Homo sapiens: one gene and its partner. The protein of the gene in region 1 purifies or fractionates together with the protein of each later gene. This does not show direct contact. Each region holds a gene or a part of one and is shown in the gene's direction. Other genes may lie near its edges. The genes, in order: UROS and MOCS1.

What was found.
Region 2: the proteins of UROS (region 1) and MOCS1 purify together in Homo sapiens (affinity purification with mass spectrometry; 3 studies listed by BioGRID and IntAct, with this or other methods). This does not show direct contact.

What each region holds. Positions count from the first base shown.
Region 1 is NC_000010.11:125,803,947-125,815,067, reverse strand, and holds part of UROS (uroporphyrinogen-III synthase), read left to right. Parts: coding exon 1-34; intron 35-2,779; coding exon 2,780-2,854; intron 2,855-7,580; coding exon 7,581-7,655; intron 7,656-11,121.
Region 2 is NC_000006.12:39,900,804-39,911,717, reverse strand, and holds the end of MOCS1 (molybdenum cofactor biosynthesis protein 1), read left to right. Parts: intron 1-1,762; coding exon 1,763-1,883; intron 1,884-2,615; coding exon 2,616-2,663; coding exon of another isoform or gene 2,664-2,671; exon of another isoform or gene 2,672-2,678; intron 2,679-4,600; coding exon 4,601-5,361; 3' UTR 5,362-7,548; downstream 7,549-10,914. Other genes in the region: DAAM2 (disheveled-associated activator of morphogenesis 2), read right to left, coding at 9,681-9,905, 10,246-10,416. UniProt on the Homo sapiens protein: Isoform MOCS1A and isoform MOCS1B probably form a complex that catalyzes the conversion of 5'-GTP to cyclic pyranopterin monophosphate (cPMP).

The sequences.
Region 1 (11,121 bases):
GAGTTATGTTTGGAGCAAAACAATAAAACTGAAGGTGAGGGTGGGTCTGCTGTGGATTCCACTGGACATTTATTTACTCTTATTTCTCCTGCTGGGAGACTAAATTCCAGAAGCAGCTGCACTTCTAAGAGAAGTGAGTGCTTAGTGGTATCAGGTCACAGACTCTGCCTTGGGAAACAGGAGAACAGGGCTATCTCCTAAACTCCCAGACAGATGACCCTGAGGAGGACTTTCCCCTGTCTATTCGTTGTTCACCTCCTAGGGACTGATATATCCCCTTAGAAGGTATCATCTGAAAATAGGATAAATACTACTTTCCTGAAAGAGAGATGATGAAAAAATCTAACTATGAGAAAATGGTCAGTGCCACCATGTCAGGCACTTAGTGACCCAGTCACCTCTTTGACTTGTCTTCCCACCTCCGTCCCTCACTATTAGAACAGTATGAAAATGGCAGTGCCCATTAACAGAACCCTGGGTTTCAGCCTGAGCAAACACCTTAATAAATGCAATTGAACAGCTTCCTAGCTAACAATTATGGAGTGCCTGTTGTATGTCAGACCCTGTGTAATGAATACTTCACGTTCATTACCCCACTTAACCCTAGATAACAATCCAGAGGCACACATTGCTATGATCTTATGTCTTATGTTACCATTGAGAAAACTGAGGCCAGGATAGTAAGCACAGAACAAGTCAGTGCAGAGCCAGGCCTCACACTCGGGCCACCCACCTCCACAGTTACACTGATGAGCGGAGGCAGCGGGCAGAGTGGTTATGCAAGGGCTTTGGAGTGAGTTAGTCCTGGGTTTATGCAGCCATTTGGACATTAATGAGTTCCTTGACCTCTCATCATGGGATTACTACTAATAGTAATGGGATTATCTACTAACAGTAGACTATTAGTTAGGTAGAACTTACTGAATGCTCACTCTGTGCGAGACTCTGTCCTGAATACTTTTTCCTGTGAGATAGATGTGCTTAGTATTTTCACTTGGCAGATGAGGACCCTGGAGAACAAAGGGTATGGAACTTTCCAGGCCCCCACAATGTGTAAAGCACAAGTGCAGGATTCAAGCTGCAGAGTCTGAGTCCCAAAGGAAAGCATCCAGGACATTACCTGGAGCAGAGTGGGCATGGAGTAAGTGACAGTGGTGAGTTTTGGTTATTCTGTCTCCACATTTAACCAGGCTTCGCTGTAGCCTAAACATCCCACCTTCTTGGTGATTTCATACACACATTCACCTCTTGTTGAAAAGAAAGCGTGAGAACCTAAGAAACTCAGAGCCAGCCAGGCGCAGTGGCTCATGCCTGTAATCCCAGCACTTTGGGAGGCCAAGGTGGGCAGATCACTTGAGGTCAGGAGTTCCAGACCAGCCTGGCCAACATGGTGAAACCCCATCTCTACCAAAAAATACGAAAGTTAGCTGGGCGTGGTGGCACATGCCTGGAGTCCCAGCTACTCAGGAGGCTGAGGCACGAGAACCACTTGAACTCAGGAGGCAGAGGTTGTATGAGCCGCGATTGTGCCATTATACGCTAGATGGGGAAGCATGTGTACTCTTTCCCAGTGGTGCTCTGGGTGCTTTTTCTTGCAGTTGTATTTTTTCTTTTTGTGTATGTTTTGAGGATGAAGATAATGAAAAAGAGGAAAACCCTAGAAAGGTCACTATAACTCTTTCTGGTGCTTTATAATAAAGTTTAAAATGCATTTTCCCATGTATTTTCTTATTTTGATTCTCACAACAACCATAGGGAATAAGCAGTAGGAGTGTAGTTAATCCCAGTTACCTTGATGAAGAAACAGACGAGGTGCGTTAACTGACTTACCTGGGACACACACGTTAAGGGGCAGAGCTGGCTCTGTGGAAGGCTTTCTGACTCCACCCAGTGCTCACTCCAGTTGTTCTGCTGTGAGGCTTGGAAAGTAGTTTGTTTACATGCTATGGATAACTTTTGAATAAATACTATTGATATTTATGGGGTAGGAAGCAAAGTGGAACTCAATCTTTGGTTACCATTTCAAAGGGAATTTCCCTTAATGTAAAGGGTAGAGGAATGCTCTTGAATTTAAGGGAAAGTTATGTTCATAACCAGATTTTGGAAAGGAAGAACCATTATTTCCCTGTTTTCTAAAAATGTAATGAATGCCCAGTAGCTTTATGATATATTTATACAATCCATTTTCTCTTTGTGTTTCTTTAATCTATATTTAAAGATTTTGTTTGATCATAAAATGATAATATTCTGTATCAAATTGTGTTTGTTAATTGACCTGAAATTTATTATTTTTACTTTGGTGTAATGGATAAATGAACCCTCTCCTCTGAGATTACAGTTTGTTGACTGCTTTCAGATTTATGTCCCAAATAAACCAATTGGATTTCCTTGTTAGACATTTAAGTTGCTTTTTTTAAATGACCAGTGTCTTTTTCTTTAAAAGTCTAGATTTAAATTTTTGATTTCACTATGCAGATTAATTCTTCAAGTTATGTTGATTTCGTGGTTCCCATTAAAATTCTTCTAGTACCAACTGTGGAGATAGGCTAATATTTCAAGCAAGGAGTACTAAAACATTTATGAAAGCAATTTTTTAAAAATTGCCTATAAAACATGAACAAAGTGAAAATGGAATTTTAGTTTGAGATGCTGTTTTTTACATTTGGTTGCTAATAGTTTGCTTTGCTCACAGTTTCTTAGGGTGAACAAGCAGCCTTGGGCAACAGTCCAAATGGCCACTTTGGTATTTGCAATTCACATATCATTTCATGTTTTACAGTCTGGGAAAGGTCTCTGAAAGAAAAATGGAATGCCAAGTCAGTGTATGTGGTTGGAAATGCTACTGCTTCTCTAGGTAAGGAGTCAAGGTAAAAATAAAACAACAAAAAATGGCTTAGCCTTTTCAGTTTTAAAAAACAGTTTAACTCAGTTTAAAAATATTATTTTTTGCTTATTAAATTTGCAAAAATTAATTAAGTATACGATACTACTGATAAGAATGCAGTGAAACAAATATAATCAAACATTTCCAAATGGCATTAAAAATTGGTTTACATCTTTTGAGAACCACTTGGTCAGTATGTATGCAAAAGCTTTATTAAAATGTTTGTACCCTTTGGCTGACTAATTCCATTGTGAATGTACATAATGCCACTGAATTATGCACTTAGTGATTAAAATGACAAATTTTATGTTATATTTTTACTATAATTTTTTTAAAAGCCTAAATCTCCAGATAGTGATATCATAGTTGTTTTTTTTTGGTTTTCTTAATATTTTGTGCATTTTTCCAGTCTTGAGTCTATTTATTCTTCTTAAAGCATAAAATGTAAATAGTAATCATTAAAAATTAACATTGAGCATTTTAAATACTTAAAACAATGCTTAGCAATTGTCATAAATTAGCCTGTAACTTTGTTTCAGAACAGTTCAATTTGTCCAGTGAATTTGAAAATATTAGAGGAATGTATAATATGAGTGAAAATAGTTTAAGAATTAAAAGCACATTTTCCAGAGAACAAAATGAGGCTGGGGAAGAAACCAGTTGGGAGTTGCTAAGCTAATTAAAAGATGATTCCTAGATCTTCTGAGCAGCATGACTTTTACCACAAGCTCAGCAGATCAGCCAGGGAAAGGGAATTAGTGGCTTGGTTGCCAAGGAAACCATCTTCCCTCCCGCACATCTCTCTCCAAAAATAAGTTAAGAATTTGCTTGTTACTTTCTTTTATCATTTTTTCCTGAATGAGAAGAGGAAAGAAAATAGCCAGTTTCTTTCATTCTCTATATTTCCTACCAAAAACTCAACTATCAAATATACAGTATATTTATACATTTTCCAAACTTTCACACATTCACTGATAAGCAAACATTTTGAGCATCACATCCCCTTCAGTTTGATTTCGGTAGCATCACTATGCATTTTGCTGTCACTGTCCTGTCATATGAGAAGAAAATGAGAAAAAAGACTATGGTGATACAATGAATGATGAGCATCTATGTCTTGAGACTTAGAGTGGCTGAGAGTGGACCATATCAAGTGCAGCACAAGCAGCAGGGCCTTGGTCTCAGTTAGGCACTCACTGGACTCAGTCTGGTCCCTGTTTATTCAGTTGTGAAGGAAAAGGACATGTTCTAAATGCAGGGAACATATTATCAAAGGAGAGAGGAAATTAGAAGTGTTGTAACTTTTAAAAATGTCTTTGAAAGGAAACCACATTTTTCCTTGACATGAAAGTCAATCACCCAACTTTGAACATTCTATTTTAGCTCACCTTTTCAGATATAATAATGTACAAAGGAGCTCTTTTGAGTAGGTACAGGGACAAGGCATTGCTTGAACTCTCTGAGGTTTCTGTTCAACTAGAATCTCAGCAGGAGCCTGGAGAGTTATCAGAAGTTGAGCACCAACAGCTGGGAGGAGACCAGGCCCAATGTATTATCTTTGCTGCGTAACAAATTACCCCCAAATTACCCCAAAACTTACTAGCTAGAAACAGGCATTTATCATCTCAATGTTTCTGTGGGCCAGAATCTGGGCATGATTTAGTGGGCTTCTCTGTAACCAGGCCATGGTCAAGCTGGTGGTCAGGGCTACAGACATTTTGAGGCTTGACTTAGGGGAGGGTCTGCTTCCAAAATCACTCACATAGCTGTCAGTGGCCTCAGAAGATCTGCTTCCCAGCTCACTCACATGGGCCTCCCGAGAGGGCTACCTAAGACATGGCAGCTGGCGTCCCCTGTCGCAAGGCAATCCAAGAGAGAGCAAAAGAGAGCACCTACCACTGAAGCCACAGTCTTTTTATAACCTAATCTTGGAAGTGGCATCCATTTCTTCTGCCATTTCTTTTGGCTTGAATCAAGTAAGTCCAGCCCACACTCAAGCGGAGGGATGACACAGGGGCATGGATCACAGGGATCATTAGGAGCCACTTTCCACTGCCCACAAGCCCTCTAGTCAAGAGCCACCCCTGGCTCCCTAGAGCCTGGGAATCAGGTTAGGAAAGTTGGACATTTGAAGCAAAGAGAAGACAAGGTAGACATTTTTCTTGAAGTAGAAATGAAAACAAGGGTCCAGTGAATAGCAAGGGATTTCGGTGTGGAAGTCCAGTGAGAGAAGATGCCAGTATTTCTTTATAAATGTTGCACGCTGACATAATTTTACAGGTATTATTGATTAATAATAGATGGCAAAAAGTACATGCTGGCTGGGTGCAGTGGCTCACACCTGTAATCCTAACACTTTGGGAGGCAGAAGCAGGCAGATCACTTGAACTTAAGAGTTCAAGATCAGCCTGGGCAACATGGTGAAACCCTGTCTCTATTTATTTGAAAATAAATTTTTTTCAAAAGTACATGCTATGTAACATTATACAGAAAGTCCTCACTTAACATTGTTGATAGGTTCTTGGAAACTGCCACTTCAAGTGAAATGATATATAATGAAACAAATTTTTTTTTCCTTATCAATGTTGTAATGAAAACATGTTGAATGAAACGATGTTATTCAAGGACCTGCTGTATGTCGTTTCACTTACAGTGGCAATTTCCAAGAATCTATTGTTGACATTAAGTGAGGACTTACTGTACTTGGTCTACATAAAATCTCCTGAGAACATTATTTGGTTCAATAATATATGCATATTTTAATAACATTTTAATTTTTATTGAAAAAGCAAAGATGGTTGGCTTGTGGTTTGATACCTTGCAACTCAGCCAGCCATATCCTAGGAAAGCCTTCCATTTGGCTGCCCAAAGGTCAGGTGCCCCAACTTTCCCATCTGATTGCAAAGTTGGACCTGGGCGCCATTTAGTAGGCACTGTTGCTTGGCCTTGTAAACCCAGACCAGTGATGTCACAGAAGATAGCTTAGCAATTAACAACTTGGAATTCATAACACAGAAAGACTGTACCAGCCTGGGCAACATGGTGAAATCTCTTCTCTACCAGAAATAACAAAAATTAGCCAAACTTGGTAGTACATTCTTATAGTCCCTTTAACTGTGGCAGTCAGTGTCTTAACCTCTCAAATATAAAAAATACTCTCTGGCAGGTTTATTTAACACAGTTGGAGACAATTTGAAGTTTCACTGTCAGCTTTTACTTGGGCAGGGCCCTTAAGATGGGCTTACCCAGCCAGAGTGTTGGTTGAAATGTTGTACTGACTTGAAGCAGAGTCAGTCTTGCCACATGCAGGGACTGAGACCTTAGACCAAATATGCATTCCCCAAACATTTCTTGAGAGCCATCTGTGGACTGTGGGGTGGACCGGGTAGCCCCAGTCTCTGCCCTCACAAATAGAGCTGGCCACTGCTTAATAGCTTCCTTCCCTCTCAAGTACAGTAGTAATTGTTCTGTTCACAGGGTTGTGGTGTGAGGATCAAATGAGCAAGTGCTTACTTTGTGATCAGCAAAGCTATATATGAGAGTTAATGTTCTGGTTATGGTTATTATTGTTTCATTACTTGGGAAAAATGCATATTTATGTCAATATTGATTACCAGCGTCACTGCTAAGTTCTTATGTCTCAGTTCAGTTCCTGTGGGATTTTTACAGGTTTTTTTGTTTACTTTTGTTTTTGATGCGTTTAGCTCTTCTAAGCTCAGACAGGAGGTCCAGCCTCGGTTGCCACTGTAGCATAAGCAAGGGCTTAGTTCCTGAACTGAGTTACAGCTTTATTTTTCTTTTGATTCAGCATGTTTTTAATGATCCATAAGTTAAAAGCTGCTGGTGTTTTTATTAAAGCTGCCATTTGTTACTAACCAGGCTCTGTGTGACTCCTAAGTGGAAAGCCCACAGCACTTCCTTCCTCAGAGGCATTCCACATTCCTGTGAGCAGGTAGCAGTGTTGACTGAGCCAGTCCCTTAGGCCTCCCTTCATCAGCACGCTTTGTGGAGTGGCCAAGTGTTTGCTGTCTGGAAAAGTGCAGGGGGAGCCTGAGTCTGTTAGCTTCTTACTTGGTTCATGAATAGGGATCTCACAAAAGTGCTGGTATAGCCCCTCATCCTAAATGACTTGTATTTGTAGCGCTGTGGGTCCCTGTTAGCAGATTATTATGAAACCTTTCCTCCCCTTCCTTCCATTTTAGTCTGGCCATGTCAAGCCATAACACCTTTCTGGATGTGGTCTGGCCACATCCTCCCAAAAAAATGAAGGCTCTGTAATGCCGATTCCTGCAAAAAGTACCAAATGCCCATCATCTCCTTCCTGACTGAAGAGAAAACAGCCTTTGTTGAGCACCTTCTAGATGGCAAGCACTTTGCTCTTATTATCTGACACGATCCTTAAAACAGTTCCATGTGGTTGGTTTTTCCCCCTCTTGTAGATGAGCTATGTGGGGCTCAGGGAAGCTAGTTAAGGCCTTACTTACCCAGCCTACACAACTGGGGTGCAGGTACCAGGACCTGATGCTTTCTCTTCTGAACAGACACTTGTGATCTTCCCTCAGTAGCTTTCAAGAAAAGACATCCTCTATGTGATTTGTAAACTGCATACCTGTGTATTTGCACGTTAAAAAATAACGCTGGAACAAAAGGACTTCAATAACCGTGTTAAGAAATACATTTCTTTGTGGTTTTCCAGTGAGTAAAATTGGCCTGGATACAGAAGGAGAAACCTGTGGAAATGCAGAAAAGCTTGCAGAATATATTTGTTCCAGTAAGTAGAAAAACATCACTCCAAATGAAGCCATTTATTTTTTGTTGACCTCACAACCACTACCTAGGGAAAAGAATATTTCCTCAGTGCATTCTTGGTGGTGAGATTGATTGGTGAGCATCGTATAACCCACTCTGGGAGCATAGCCTATTTGTATTTGTGTATGTCTATACTTTGTGAGGTTTAGCCCACTTCCTTCTACCCCCTGTACCAAAGAACTTGACTTGAACATAACACAAAATAAAACATTTGGGAGATAAAAACAGTGGAGAGATCACTTGAGGGATTCCAAAGAGAGCAGAGGCAGGAGGTGTGAGTGGGTACTCTCCCCTTACTGAGGACTGTCCTTTCCCTTCTCAGGAGCTACTTCTGTCTCTGAATTCCCTCTCCCAGCTTGCTCCCAGGTAAAGAACTGACTCATGATTGGGCTGCCTGTGGACTTGGATTTAAAGTGGCACTTGTTCTAGGGGTGTTAGCATTTAAATGGGGACTTAGTCTTAAACTAATTATGGAATTGTAGGCTTCAGAAGATACATAGGCAAAAATTCTTGGAGCAAGAGGGATGGGAAGGCTGACCGTCTACTTGTAGGGCAGCCCCACCTCTAAGGTGCATCTCCCTTCCTCTCTGTTCCCTGAATGTCCAGTACAACCGCAAGCTCTTACACCCTTGTCATTTGACTCCTCTGCTGTAGGTGTAAGATCATACACCCCCATGAGAGCATGAAGTAGAACTATCTTATCTTAGATTGCTGAAGAGGAGGAAATCCAGGCTTTCCTAGAGATCATGAGCTGGCAAACTTCATCTGTTAAGGATATTTTGGGCTTTGCAGGCAAATGGTCTGTCAGAACTACTAATCTCTGCAACAGAAGCATGAGAGCAGCCATAGGAAATAAACAAACAATGGGCTTGGCTTTGACCCCAGGCTAGAGTTTTCTGACCCCTTTCTAAAATTGCTTGAGTGTCTGCTGAGCTGGGAGGCCAGGGTCAGATGAACTGCTGACAGCTGAGAGTTTCCTCTAAGGTGGTCCCAGGAGAGGGGTATATGCCTTGGCCCTTGGGTGGTGAGATCAGGATGAGTGGTATAGGGAGAGAGTATACCTTAAATAGGTCTCTTTATGGCTTCTGAAACAGTGATAGATGGTTTTGTTTCTGGTAAAACAAAGTATTTATGTTATTTAAAAAAAATACTCCTAAAGGTGATGTTGGCCTTTCTTGACGTGCAAACTTGTACACTAACGTCTTATAAGGCATTACTTACAAGTCTTCCTGCCGTAAGTCATTGCTGTTGCCTGAAGGTTCTCTAGCTTATATTTTTCTTTGTGTTACTGGGAGCTTGTTCTAGAGAAAGTCCTGCGTCTTTTTCTACACTGTGGTCTGAGGATCCCTGGAGCTTAATTAGGCCCCTGACAGAGTCGTCTGGGTTGGGGGCGGCAGTGAGCAGTCAGGGAACAGCAGAGATACTGCTGGGCTCAGTGGATCCTTTCCAAGTTCTCCAATTCTCCTTTTTTCTCTTTTCTAATTTCTTTTAAAAATAACTTCGTTGTACCTTTCCTGAGTCACTACATGCTCGGTGTTAACGTTGAAGACTAGCATTTACTGAGTGCCCAGCGTGTCTCGGGTACATAGACACGTGGCCTGTATGATGTCATTTAATCTTCACCATCACCCCATGAAGTCAGAATCGTGTCCACTGCAAGCTGTGCTGGCCAGTACAGTAGCCACTAGCCACATACGGCTATTTAAATGTAAATGTAAATTAATTGAAATTAAATACAATTGAAAATTTAGTTCTTCAGTCACACTGGGCACATTTCACAAGCTCACTTGTCACTGTGGCCAGTGGCACCAAATTGGACCACACAGAACATTCCCATCATCACCAAAAGTTCTTTCTGACTGTGCTGCTATAGAGACTCTTGGGGGTCCAAGGCCCAGATCTTGTCCAAGGTCACAAGCTATGAAGTGGCAGGCTGGAATTCACACTCAGCACAGCAAGGCCACTGCTCATCCCATGGCCTGTCACATTCAGAGGCCTGACTGGCATCTGCTCCATGCCGACCTGCTCTCAAGGAGATGCTGGCCAAGCACCTCCATCCACTCTGATTTACAGTGACTGGGGCTCCTGCAGGGATGAAGACGTAAGTGTGCTTGACTCTGTGTTTGAATCTGGTGGGCAGAGGCTTAAGGAGCCTCCGGTTTAGAGGAACTACACGGGCCTTTTCTGGCCACTCAGATGAATAAGCTGTAGTCCCAGAGTGTTTCGGCCACTTGGCAATCCTGAGCCTGTGCACTCCTTAGTTCAGTGGATGTGCGTTCATCGGCTCGGACATGGCTTTCAGGTATTAATGCATTGACTGACGCCTCTCTTGCCCCACCCCCCATATTGCTTCCCACATCACAGGAGAACAAGTCAGTTCAATATGGTTCGGCAGATGTTTACCCAGGAGCACCTGTGTGCCAGGCCCTTTGCAGGGCGTTGGGACTGAAGAGGAGTTTAACTCCATTCCTGTCTTCTGGAAGTTCCCAGCCTAGCTGGGGCTGGAGGTGGGGTAGGGTGGGGAACATATACATCAGTAACCGTGATAAGGCAGGGTGGATTAAGTGACCAGAAGAGGTATGAACAGTTTTTGTATGGTGGGCCTGCTATTAAGATACCTGTTTCTACCTGTAAAACACTCAGGATACCAAATAGGTGGGGTTTTTCCTCATATCAATGACCAATTCTCCAATGCTCCAGATAACAGCTGGGTGTCCTACAACTTAATTTTGACATTACCCAGAATTAACCCAGACCCCACAGCTTTAAGGGCTCAGTCTTAGCAAACTGTCCCCCACTTTAGATACAAGTATTGGATGCTGAGGGACCTCTGTCCAAGTTGGCTACAAGTCAGGAGTTCTCACGACTCCCTACTCAGGTTCAGTAATTTGCTAGAATGGCTCACAGAACTCAGGGAAACACTTATGTGTACTGATTTTTATAAAGGAGATAACAAGGACACAGATAAACAGCCAGATGAAGAGGTCTGGAAGGGTCCTGAGTACACAGGAGCTTCTTCCCCCATGGAGTTGGGGTGCGCCACCCTCCTGGCACATGGATGTGTTCACCAACCCAGAAGCTCTATAAACTCATAGTTGAGGGGTTTTATGGAGGTTCCATTATGTAGGCACCATTGATTAAATCATTGACCCCTGGTGACTAGCTCCATCTCCAACCCTTTGATCACATGGTTGTGATCCTCTGTGTGGCCTTCAGCCCCCATCCTGAAGCTTTCTAGGGGCCACCACCAGTCACCTCATTAGCATAAACTCCAGTATGGTTAAAAGGGGTTTATCATGAATAACAAAAGATGCTCCTCTCACCTCTAATGGGAAGTTCCAAGAGTTTCAGAAGCTCTGTGCCTGGAACAGGGAGGAAAACGAAATATTTCCTCTTGTATCACAGTGTCATGTCAGGGTGTCCAAAAG
Region 2 (10,914 bases), on another chromosome or scaffold:
TACAGACCTCAGCGAGCCTTGAAGAATGGGTGGGGCAGAAGTGGGGAGGGGAGGGTGCATACATAGGGTTCATACTGGTTGGGCGGGCTAGGGCAGATTAAAGTCAGCTATGGGAAGACTACATTGTAGGGGGCTTTGGTTCAGAATGTGTTCTGTGGACAATAGTGTGCTGCGTAAGGTTCCTGAACAGGGGAGACATCCCCCATGTATGTTTTATAAGCCACAGGCTGGGTGTGATGGCAGGAAGACCAATTAGGTGGCCATTCAGTGGTTCTCCAAATATGTTAGAGTGTGAATTGAAGGGAAGGAAGACTCAGAGAGCTTGGTAATGTTCGCGGAAGGAGAGGAGGAAGGCATCAAGGTAGCTGGAAGGCCTTGGGATCTTTTACAATTGTGGGAGGGTGATGATGGTGGGTTGGGTTTAGATGCATGCAGTTTGAATCCAAAAGGAACCATCCAGCAGGTTGCTGAAAAGCTTGGGGGTTTTTCTGGGCTGGAGATACGGAATTGACTTGGACTAGAGGTGGTATCTGTATCTGTGAGGTCTTGGCAGGAAATGGAAGGTGGGATTCTGAAGAGAATGTAATGAAGAAGCTATTTATAACATATAAGATTAAGGGAACCAATAAAGGATATTGAGGTACTTGGGACCAGCAGCAGCAAAGTGCTGTTCCCACTTAGGAAGGGCAAGGGGGAGGCACTGATGTCACTGGGGCCCAGGAAGGGCTGGAGCCTTAGAAGAGAGGCCACCTCATTGGCACTTGAGCTGTGCAGAGAAGCAGCTGCTGCCAGATACATCAAAGCAGGGAGGAAGTAGGGGAGAAATGCCTGAAGATTGTTCTTTCCCTTTACCCATTGATCTCCCAGGCAGGAGCCAGCTGGGGGGCGGGAGGGGAGGGTGGTACCAGGTGAAGTCCACAGGAGGAACCTCTTTGTTGCAGAGAAGGGAACCTGGAGGCTGGTTGGGGAGCGAGGCATGAGGAATAACAGGCACGCTGAAGCAGTTAGACCTATCCTAGATTTCACTGGTATCTTCTCCAGTGGTCTCTGCCTGCAGAAGCTTCTCAGACATTCTTCTTTCTCTGTGGCCACAGTGCCTTGTGCAGAGCTGGCACAGAGTAGATGCTTCATAAGTTTTGGTGGAAGGATGGTAGGTATATTGATTTCTGGGGCTGTCTCATCCATCCCTCTTACAGAAGCTGAGAAGCATTGAGTGAAGTTTGACCTTAAGTTGTCATGCCCAGCAGCCCTCAGCTGAAGCTTCCAAGCAGTGATCACAGACTCAAATAGGTACAGGGCAGTCAGGTGATGTCCACAAGGGACTTGGAGGGGCTGAGGTGAAATGGGATGTGTGTGCCACAACAGGGGTAGGAGACTTCCAGGACACACACAGCTCCAACTGGTTGGGGGCCATTCTCATGGTGATAAAGTGGCCATTCCAGCAAGTGTCTCAGAAGGTAGAGATCTGGATTTTTACATGCTATCTCTGTTGGCATCTACTTAGTTTTTTAAAAATACACTGAGGGAAGTATGACTGTAACTCACATATAGGTATTGGGAAGTCGAATTTTGCCTCTTGCTCTTCTAGCCTCTCTGACCTCCCTACAGCACCTCTGTCTCTCACTGCTAGGGGCCCTGCCATGGGAGGCCTGGGCCCTGGTGCTCCTCCCGGAGGGAGAACCAGGGAAGGAGTTAGCTCCTCAGAGGCCAGGAGGCCAAGGCTCAGGGGTAAGGAAGGCATATTGTCCTCACCCACATGTAGGTCTGCCTCTTTGGAAACTCTGAGGTATCCCTGCGGGATCACCTGCGAGCTGGGGCCTCTGAGCAGGAGCTGCTGAGAATCATTGGGGCTGCTGTGGGCAGGAAGAAGCGGCAGCATGCAGGTAAGTGCAGGGTGGGGAGGGCTGGCCTGGATGGTGAGTGGGCCTTGTCCCTGGGAGGGAGGTGTGGAGTTGTGGGGTGAGATGACCAAGGAACACCTAGGGGGAAGCTGGCGAGAGTCAGCATCATCCCCACTACCACTCACTGCTGTTGGCCCTCTGGACTCAGGGTACAGTGATGCTTCTCCTTCCATGGGGAAAAGTCATAGCAGAGGCTGCACAGGAGAGGGGACCCCAGATTCTCTTGGGCTGTTTTACTAGGTGGGGAGAAGGGGGTGTCATTGCTTCTTTCTCATCCCACACGTGGCCTTCTGTTTAGGGAGGGCAGGGTCCTGATGTCCACAGACTGTTCTTTGGGCTCAGCCTTGAGCGACCTCGCAGTGCACATGTGGGGGCCTTTTGTCATACAGCTGAGTGCATGTGCTCGGGGCTGTCAAGCGCGTTTGTTTCAGTGAACTCTCCTCTCCCCGCCCTGTCCCTCTCCCGCTCCCCTGCTTTCCTCTCCCTCTCCCCTTCCCCTGCTTTCCTCTCCCTCTCCCCCTCCCCCTCCCCTGCTTTCCTCTCCCTCTCCCCCTCCCCCTCCCCTGCTTTCCTCTCCCTCTCCCCTCCCCCTCCCCTGCTTTCCTCTCCCTCTCCCCTTCCCCTGCTTTCCTCTCCCTCTCCCCCTCCCCTGCTTTCCTCTCCCTCTCCCCCTCCCCTGCTTTCCTCTCCCTCCCCATCTTTCCCTCACCCCAGGCATGTTCAGTATTTCCCAGATGAAGAACCGGCCCATGATCCTCATCGGTGGGTGACCCATCAGTACGTAACCACTCACCCTTGTCATTTGGGGATCTCGTGGGGTGGGAGCCGTGCCATAGGCACCCCCAGCTCCTGCATTTCATGCTGATTTCTCATCCTTGTTTTTCTTCTATTCCTCCTTCATCTCTTCTTAACCTTCAAGGTTTTACTGTTTCTTCCCCCACTGTTCATGATCCCCCTTACTATACCTGCCACAGAAATGATCCTTCTGTCTCACCAGACATCAGAGCAGGGGGATGGTCTGCCAGATTTAATGATCACTAAGTTAGTGGCTCCCTGAGAATTGAAATCCTGGTTAAAACAGAGGCCTTTTCCTCGGCTCTAAAATCTCCCATTTGGATAATGTGACAGGTGTCCTCTGTAGTACCCAATGATCCATGCACGGTGTATCTGGACCATGAGCCCCCACGGGTGGATGTGTGGCCAGACGTCTGTGCTGGGCAGATCTTGAGGCAGCAAGTTAATAATGTTACTCACATGTAACATGAGGTAATGATGGCCAAGACCTCAACTTCCCAATTCCTTAACTCTCAGGAACATCTGCATAGGATGTATCATCGTGTGTGTAGGATGCTTCAAACAAAAGCCCCCTGGTTTTAAGTCCTTATGTGGTCTCCTACCCCTGGGGGCTGGGCTGGTCACTGAGGAGCTGTAGGGTGGCTGTTGCCCCTCTGTCACGGTGCCCAGATTATAGCAGGTGAGGCCTTGACCCTTTGCTCGCAGTCAGTTCTGAGCCCCCTGAACTGTGCCACTAGGAAAGAAAAAGCAGGGGGGAGAAAAGATGAGAGGAAAGATCCTTTCTTTAGAGGTTAGAGCAGAGGGAACTCAGTGGCCCAGAGGGGAAGGCAGGCTAGAGACAGCCCAAGGACCATCTTTGCCCACTGGCTGCCCGGGAAAGCAAAGGTAGCTTGCCACTGGGAAGAAGACTCTCATCTCCTCTCCTCCCACCCCCAGCATCCAAGTCCTCTTGTTGGGCCCTGACCCATGCTGAGGCACCTTCATGGCCTTGATGGCATCTCCCCAGAAGGGAGGCTGCCCCTCTGACATTGACATGTCTGGGGCTTAGAGTATGATGCGAAGTGGGAAGCTGGGGGAGCATTTGCCTCATACTTTCAGAGATATTGAGTAACCAGTCTGCTTTCTATACAACCAAGAGTTGCCTAGGACAGGGCCTCTCAGAATTTCATGTGCATGTGAATCACTGGGGATTTTGTCCTTTTGGATTGACTTGGAAGGTCTGGGGTGGGATTCTGCATCTCTTGTGAGTTCTCAGGTGGTGCTGGTGCTGCTGGTGCTGCTGGTCCATAAGCCAACCACCCTTTGAGTAACAAGAGCCTGCACCATTCCCTAGGCCCTCTGCACCATCTGAATTAGCCCGTCAGTTTGTATGTGCTTCTCATGTGCTTCAGGGGACTTGAAAAACATTTAAGTAGATCACAAATTCCCCTTATTATCTTGTCTGTAAACTAAGTGGTTATATTAACTCTTCATGGAGAATGTGAAGATAAAAATAGGTGTAATTGGTAATTTAGAGTGAGACCTAGCTCTAGTTTTAAGAAAATGAAGGGACATTCAGAGGTCATGTGATCCAGGCCTCAACTTGGTGCTGCTTGAGAGAACTTGGGAATTGAGAAGGTTTTCATGTGGAGGGAACCCTGTGCCACGGTGGCACAGCAGTTTCTAGGAGGGCTGTTACCCTGTACATCACTGGGTGAGAAGGGCTGTGAACTTGGACTCTGGGTGCCATCTATCTGTGGATCTTCTACTTTGTCTTGTCCCACTATGCTTTTTGTTCTTCATTCCTCTTTCCCCGGTATGAAAGAGAACTTGAGGTGGGATAGGGAGAGGGTTGGGGAGTAGAGGTGGGAAAAAGAATTGCCTTTTGGACTTAGTGTTTCTTCTCTTTTCTTCTTGCCTTGCAGAGTTATTTTTGATGTTCCCCAATTCCCCACCAGCCAATCCAAGCATTTTCTCCTGGGACCCGCTCCATGTTCAGGGTCTAAGACCCAGAATGAGTTTCTCCAGCCAGGTGGCCACTTTATGGAAAGGATGCAGGGTCCCCCAGACCCCTCCTCTAGCCCAGCAGCGGCTGGGGTCTGGCTCCTTTCAGAGACACTACACTTCCCGTGCAGACTCAGATGCCAACTCAAAGTGCCTTAGCCCAGGTTCCTGGGCTTCTGCTGCCCCCTCAGGACCCCAGCTAACCTCAGAACAACTAACTCATGTGGACTCGGAAGGACGGGCAGCTATGGTAGATGTGGGCAGGAAGCCAGACACAGAGCGGGTGGCTGTGGCTTCAGCCGTGGTCCTCCTGGGACCGGTAGCCTTCAAGCTTGTCCAGCAGAACCAGCTCAAGAAAGGAGATGCCCTAGTGGTGGCCCAGCTGGCTGGAGTCCAGGCAGCCAAGGTGACCAGCCAGCTGATCCCTCTGTGCCACCACGTGGCCCTGAGCCACATCCAGGTGCAGCTGGAGCTGGACAGCACACGCCATGCCGTGAAGATCCAGGCATCTTGCCGGGCTCGGGGCCCCACCGGGGTGGAGATGGAGGCCCTGACCTCTGCTGCAGTGGCCGCCCTCACCCTGTATGACATGTGCAAGGCTGTCAGCAGGGACATCGTGTTGGAGGAGATCAAGCTCATTAGCAAGACTGGTGGTCAGCGGGGGGACTTCCATCGGGCTTAGCACCTGCCCTTCTCACCCATGGCCCACCCAGGCCTGGAGCTGGGATGCAATGTAGGCTGAGGGAAAGACGTCAGGTTCCTTTAATCACAGTCACTGTTTGTTTACCTTGAGCAGTAAACCCGAAGTCAGCCTGCTCTACTACTAACAAACAGGCCTGCTGCTAGATGATCTCTAATGACCAATGGGGCTTCCTTTCTATAGGGAGGATACCAGCAGGCCCTTAAGCCTTCCAGGACACTAAGGTCGTGGGAGCGGGACTGCAACAAGCAATGCCAGATAACTGAGAAATCATGTTCTTTGTGGACTATTTCAGACAACCAGGTTCCGACAGTCCAGCCCAGAACTTTTCCTTCTCATTTTGGGTTTTCTCTTCTCCTGCTTTCCTGGGGAGAGATTAAGCGCTCATTAAGCAGAGGAGCCCACTTTGAGGAGAGCAAAGCACAAGCTTGCCTGAAGAATGGATCCCAACTTCTCCCCGGCAGCTCTGCCTCCCTAAGTCTGTGAAGCCGCAGCCCTGCCCTGTCCTGTCCTGTCCTGACTTCATCTCTCCTTCTGCCCAAGTCTGTGTCCCATCAGACTTGCAGCCTTTCAGCTTAACAGTTGCCCGGTCCTGCTGGCCCCTTTTCCTCTGGCCCCCCTCTTCTGAAACAGGATGTGCACACATGGGCCATAGCCCTAAGGACTCCTGCCAGACCACACAGCCCACACCTGGCCCTGTTCACGGCTGTTCCACCCACCCCTCTTTATTCTGGAGCATATCAGGGAAAGAAAAGTTGATGATAGATTGCCTTCACCCTCACAGCGCACAAATAAAGCTACGATGCCAACTTTGCAGATGCAAGAATGAAGACACTGTGTGGGTAGGGCACTGAGCTGCTGCAGTTTCACAGGGAAGGCTGCACCTATCAATCAATCAATCAATCCTATCCCAAGACACAGTTCCCTGAGGGAAGAAGAGGAGGGACCTGGAAAGGCCTAAGGGTGTACTCTCTGTATAGCCCCGCTATGGGAAAATAAAGTGGAGTAGGGGGCATAGAAATGCACCATCTAAGGGAAATCTTTTGTCAGGTGGTGGCCAGGGGTGTTCAAAGCTCATTGCTTGCATTACCAGCTATTAGAGAGATCAGAGAGGGCAATTAATTAGAGGCTCCTGGTTCTCACATCCCAAACACACACAGTTCTGGCCTGCTGGGCTCTCTAACTTGGATGTCTTTGAGTCCTCAGTGGTGCCCCCTGCCTGCCTCCCCTCTGCCCTATGCCAAGGTGTGCTGGCAAATATTAAACAACCAGCTCTCTGGAAAAGACAATTTGTGATATAAATACTCCCATGTTGAATAATTTCAAGCTACCAGTATGTCAAATGGCTTGCAAAATTTCTGAAAATGTAAACAATTGGTTCTCACAGAGCTGGTACAAGCTGGCTCCAGCACACTCTCAGCCCACCCCAGATCCCCTCATAGGAAGAAGGCACAAGTTTAAAGGCAGACTGGGTAGGGATGGTATGAATTTAATATTTTTTAGTATTACAATATATTCTTATAAAAAAGGTGCAAGTGAAAAAGGACACTGTAGATTATGTCCATTAGCCTCATTTGTCATCTGAGGCAGCTGGTGAGAACAGCCTTGGCGTGAAGGCATCCCTGGTAGAAGTCGGGGGAGATAGATAGTCACAGTTCCCCAGTTGGTGGAAATGGGATGGGAGTAGGGAGAGGCTGGAACAGACCCTTCCCCATTCACCTGGAGAATTTTCTCCTCCCACTGCCCTAAACACTTTATTTCCATCACAGGGGAGAAATGCTGCTGAGAAGGTTGTGTTTGTTAGGTTGATGACGAATTTTACATTGGCCACAAAATTAGCTAGAGAAACTTATCTAAAGGTGGCAGGAGCAGTGGGGAGGGCATGAAGAAAGCAAGACCAAGAAACAACCTATTAAGGACCAGCTCAGCCACCCCGACTGGGCACCAGCCCCTTCTTACTCAGTTGAGTATGAGTCCATGGTCCAAGGCACTGTTGGAGATCTGGCTACAGTGGCATCTAGCACCAGAGCCACTGGCCAGATGTAGAAAATAAATAGAAAAATATCTTTCTTTTAGAGTGAGAAGGCTGAGCTCTGGAACAACGTATTTGTGTCCTCTGTCAACAGTTGAACCAAATTCTGCTTTTCTGAAGATCAAATGTATCTTGAACAGCTTCCATAGTCCTTTTGTTTCCAGGTGCGTATCCAGTCTTCCATGGTGGGTGGGAATGCCAGACACGCTTGTGGAGCCCTCCCCTGTTCCCTGCCCCTGAGGGGGTTAGGTTGACATCAGCCTGGTCAGTTTGGGAGAGGACCTTTAGAGGCCTCACCCACAACCTCCCATCTTCCCCAACACTTGTCTTGCAGTGGGAGCTCTTGGGGCTGCAGATGCATATAGCCAAACTCTCTGCAGCTGTTCTGCCTGGAAGCCTTCATCTTGCCCTCACCTGGGTTCCAGGATGGCCTCTTCACACCTGTGTCAGCCAGGCTTGCACTTGCTCAGATCCCTCCCACCAGAACACACACACACCGCCCGCCCCCTCAAACCAACGCACATGCTGGGCTCACCGACCCTGTGTTTCTTCCCCCCCGCAGCTACTACGGTCCCAGCCCCAGGAGTTGGATGCAAGTGAAAGGCAGAAGATAGGCAGCTGAGAGTAGGCCCAGCTCACCAGTCTCCACTGGCAATAACCCTGAGCCAGGGATTAGGTTGGAAAGTGAGAAACACAGGGAAGGGCAGAAGGGCCAAGAGCTCATTGATGGTAGAGGTTAGGCAGGGCCAGTCTCAAAGAAGATGAAAGGCCAACTCGGAACGTGGTATTGAATAAGAGCCTTGATGGAGTTTTAGAAAAATTTTGTCTAGATACAGCCATCCCATCCACCAAGGCCAGCATGAGATGGACAAAATGGAAGGTGGCAGTGGATGGGAGGACCAGAAGGAACCCCTTGCAAGTTGGGCTGAAGAACCAAATTGGGTACCAGAAATGGGGTGGCCCCCCTCTCAGCCTTCCTCCTTGGCACCTTCAGGTGATGTGCTCCCCAGAGGATATCAGCCTTCCTCCTCCATCCCCATCTCCCCAGTTTCCCTTGCCTGCTCTGCTGTTCGCACCATCTGAACGCCTGAGAGGAGGGGCCACCCTTAGAGACAGCATGTTAATGTAGAGGGCAGCTCTGGCCCTCAGACCTCTCAGGAACCAACTCCCCAACGCCAGTGGACACATGGTTCCAAGTGGCCACCTGCAGGCTGGACAGAGGCTGCTGTGGCTTCTGCCTTGAAGCTAGTGTTAGAGAAGGGGTGGGAGGGCCTGAGCAATTTATATGAAGTAGAGAACTATGGGATGGAGCTAAGCATTCAAGTGCTGCCCTCTGCTGAGGGGCTGTAGGGGACTCCAAGGCAACATTTGAGGTCACTGTCTGGCTTCACAACAATGGCCAGGTGTCCAGGAGATGGGGACATGGGAGATGCCCAAAAGGCATGAGGTGTGGTGATGCATGAGGTCTGTCTTGAGCCCCTCGCCAGATTCATCAAGCACCTGGTAGTGAGCCATAGCTGTGGAAACCCAAGGTGAGTCTTCTAGGACTGTGGATTAGTAGACAGGATGGAGGTGAGGGTAGAGAAGGAAGGGAAAGATACTTAAGACATGCAGGGAGAGGCCAGAGGACTTGTGACATGGGAAACAGACACTGCTACTCTGTCCTGATGGCTTTGGTCCCTGCATCATCCTTCCAACATTGACTGTTCTCTGGAACCTACCAGAGCTGATCTAACTAGAATATATAATGCCTCCTCTGTTCCCATTCAAGAGGAAAGTTTGCCCCCAGGTCAATGTTCTGTTGAGCCTCCCCTTGAGAGAAGGGAGTCTGGATTCCCTCACCAGATTCCCTCTCAGGGGCTCCCTCCATCATTGCTCCCCGTGCTACACAGGAACTCTGGACAAGGCTGTGGACCTCTCCAGTCTAGATCTGGAACTGTTCTGTGCCAGCACATGGGTGCCCATGGTAGGGGATGGGGAGCAGGGCCCCTTCAGCCTGGGGTTACCTGGCCTGAGGCCATCCAAGGCAGCCTCAGAATAATACCTGGGGCCAGGGCACAGAAGGAATCATGTGAAGGGGAGATAAGAGGAGCCCCTTAAGGTAAGCGTGGGGAGACACCTGGTCCAGCCACACACAGCCCCCCATCCCAGGACCCAGCCCAAGGCTCTAAACCAAGCACCAAATGGTTTAAATATCACCACCTCCTCCACTCAGCCCCATTCTCACCAGTCCCTGTCTCCCGGCCTCCTGTGTGGCTAGTTCCCCAGGTCAATAATTTAGCCGGTTTATTGCCCGCTCCCGGGTAACTTCCAGGGCCTGGCTCCCTGATCGCTTGCGGCTGCGCTTGAGCTTGCATAAGTCCTTGTCGAAGACCTCCCCAGAGCGCAGGGCCGACACCAGGTCATCGAACTCTCCTCCCTCCTCCAGCGAGCTGCCTGCAGCCAGGACCTTCCGCTGCCGCTGCCACCGCTCACGTTCCCTCTGCTCCTTCAGCTGCGGGCGGGGGGCCAAAGATAGGAACCCTCTCAGGGAGAGGCGCTGAGGCCAGGGCAGCCCCCCAACCCTGGGCTAACTCCTAGGCCATGGTCATGCTGCCTGCCTGTATCTGTTGGCCCCACTTTCTTCCTGCCTAGGACATACAGGCCCCCAGCTTCACACCACTCTCTTCCCTCAGGCTGGGAAGAAGTTTCTCTCTCCTGGGGCTGACATCCAACCCCTATGGTGTTCCTCAGTTCCTCAGTCTCTGCCCTCCTCCCACACACCCCAGTTTGGGGGTGTTCTCCCCAAGTAGCACCCGTCTCCCCTCAGTCCCAGGCCTGGCACTGCCCCTCACCATGGCTTCCATGCGCGCCCGCCGCTCCTCCTCCTCCTTCCTCCTCCTCATGGCCTCTAGATCCTGCCGGGCCTCTGAGAAGGCCTGCAAGAAGGTATCAAAGATGCCAAAGAATTCGTCTGGCTGCATCTTGCTGTCATGCTCCCCGAAGTGCATCAAGGCCTTGGCGAACTGTCAAGGGACAGAACAGGATTGGTGGAGAGTGCCCTGGAGCATGCTGGGCTCAGCCCCTGAGGTTAGCTGGGTTCTAGCCAGAGCAGAGCCCAGCGCAAGGCTGGGGACTGTTGGCACAGGGGGCAGGGCTGGAAGAGGTGAGAAGACACCCCCATCATCATCAGGATCAGAGACAAGGCTAAGGAGAGGCAGGTAAAGAGTTGGGCTCACTCAGTCCACCTTAGAGCCACCCCTGGGCCTGTAAGGGGTAGGCATGAGGTCAGGGGTATAGACCTTGGGAAGCCCTTCCTGAGGTCAGGAAGAGGCTGGCAGAACTCAGAACTTCAAAGATCCTCTAGTTATGTTAATAACCCCTCTGTGCCTCAGCTTCCTCCACTGTCAAATGGGAATAATAGAATCTACATCATAGTGGTGTTGGGGGGTTAGATGAGTTGGTGGCTATAAAACAGTGGCTATATTTATATAGGCCAGGCACTGTTCTGAGTTACTGAGAGC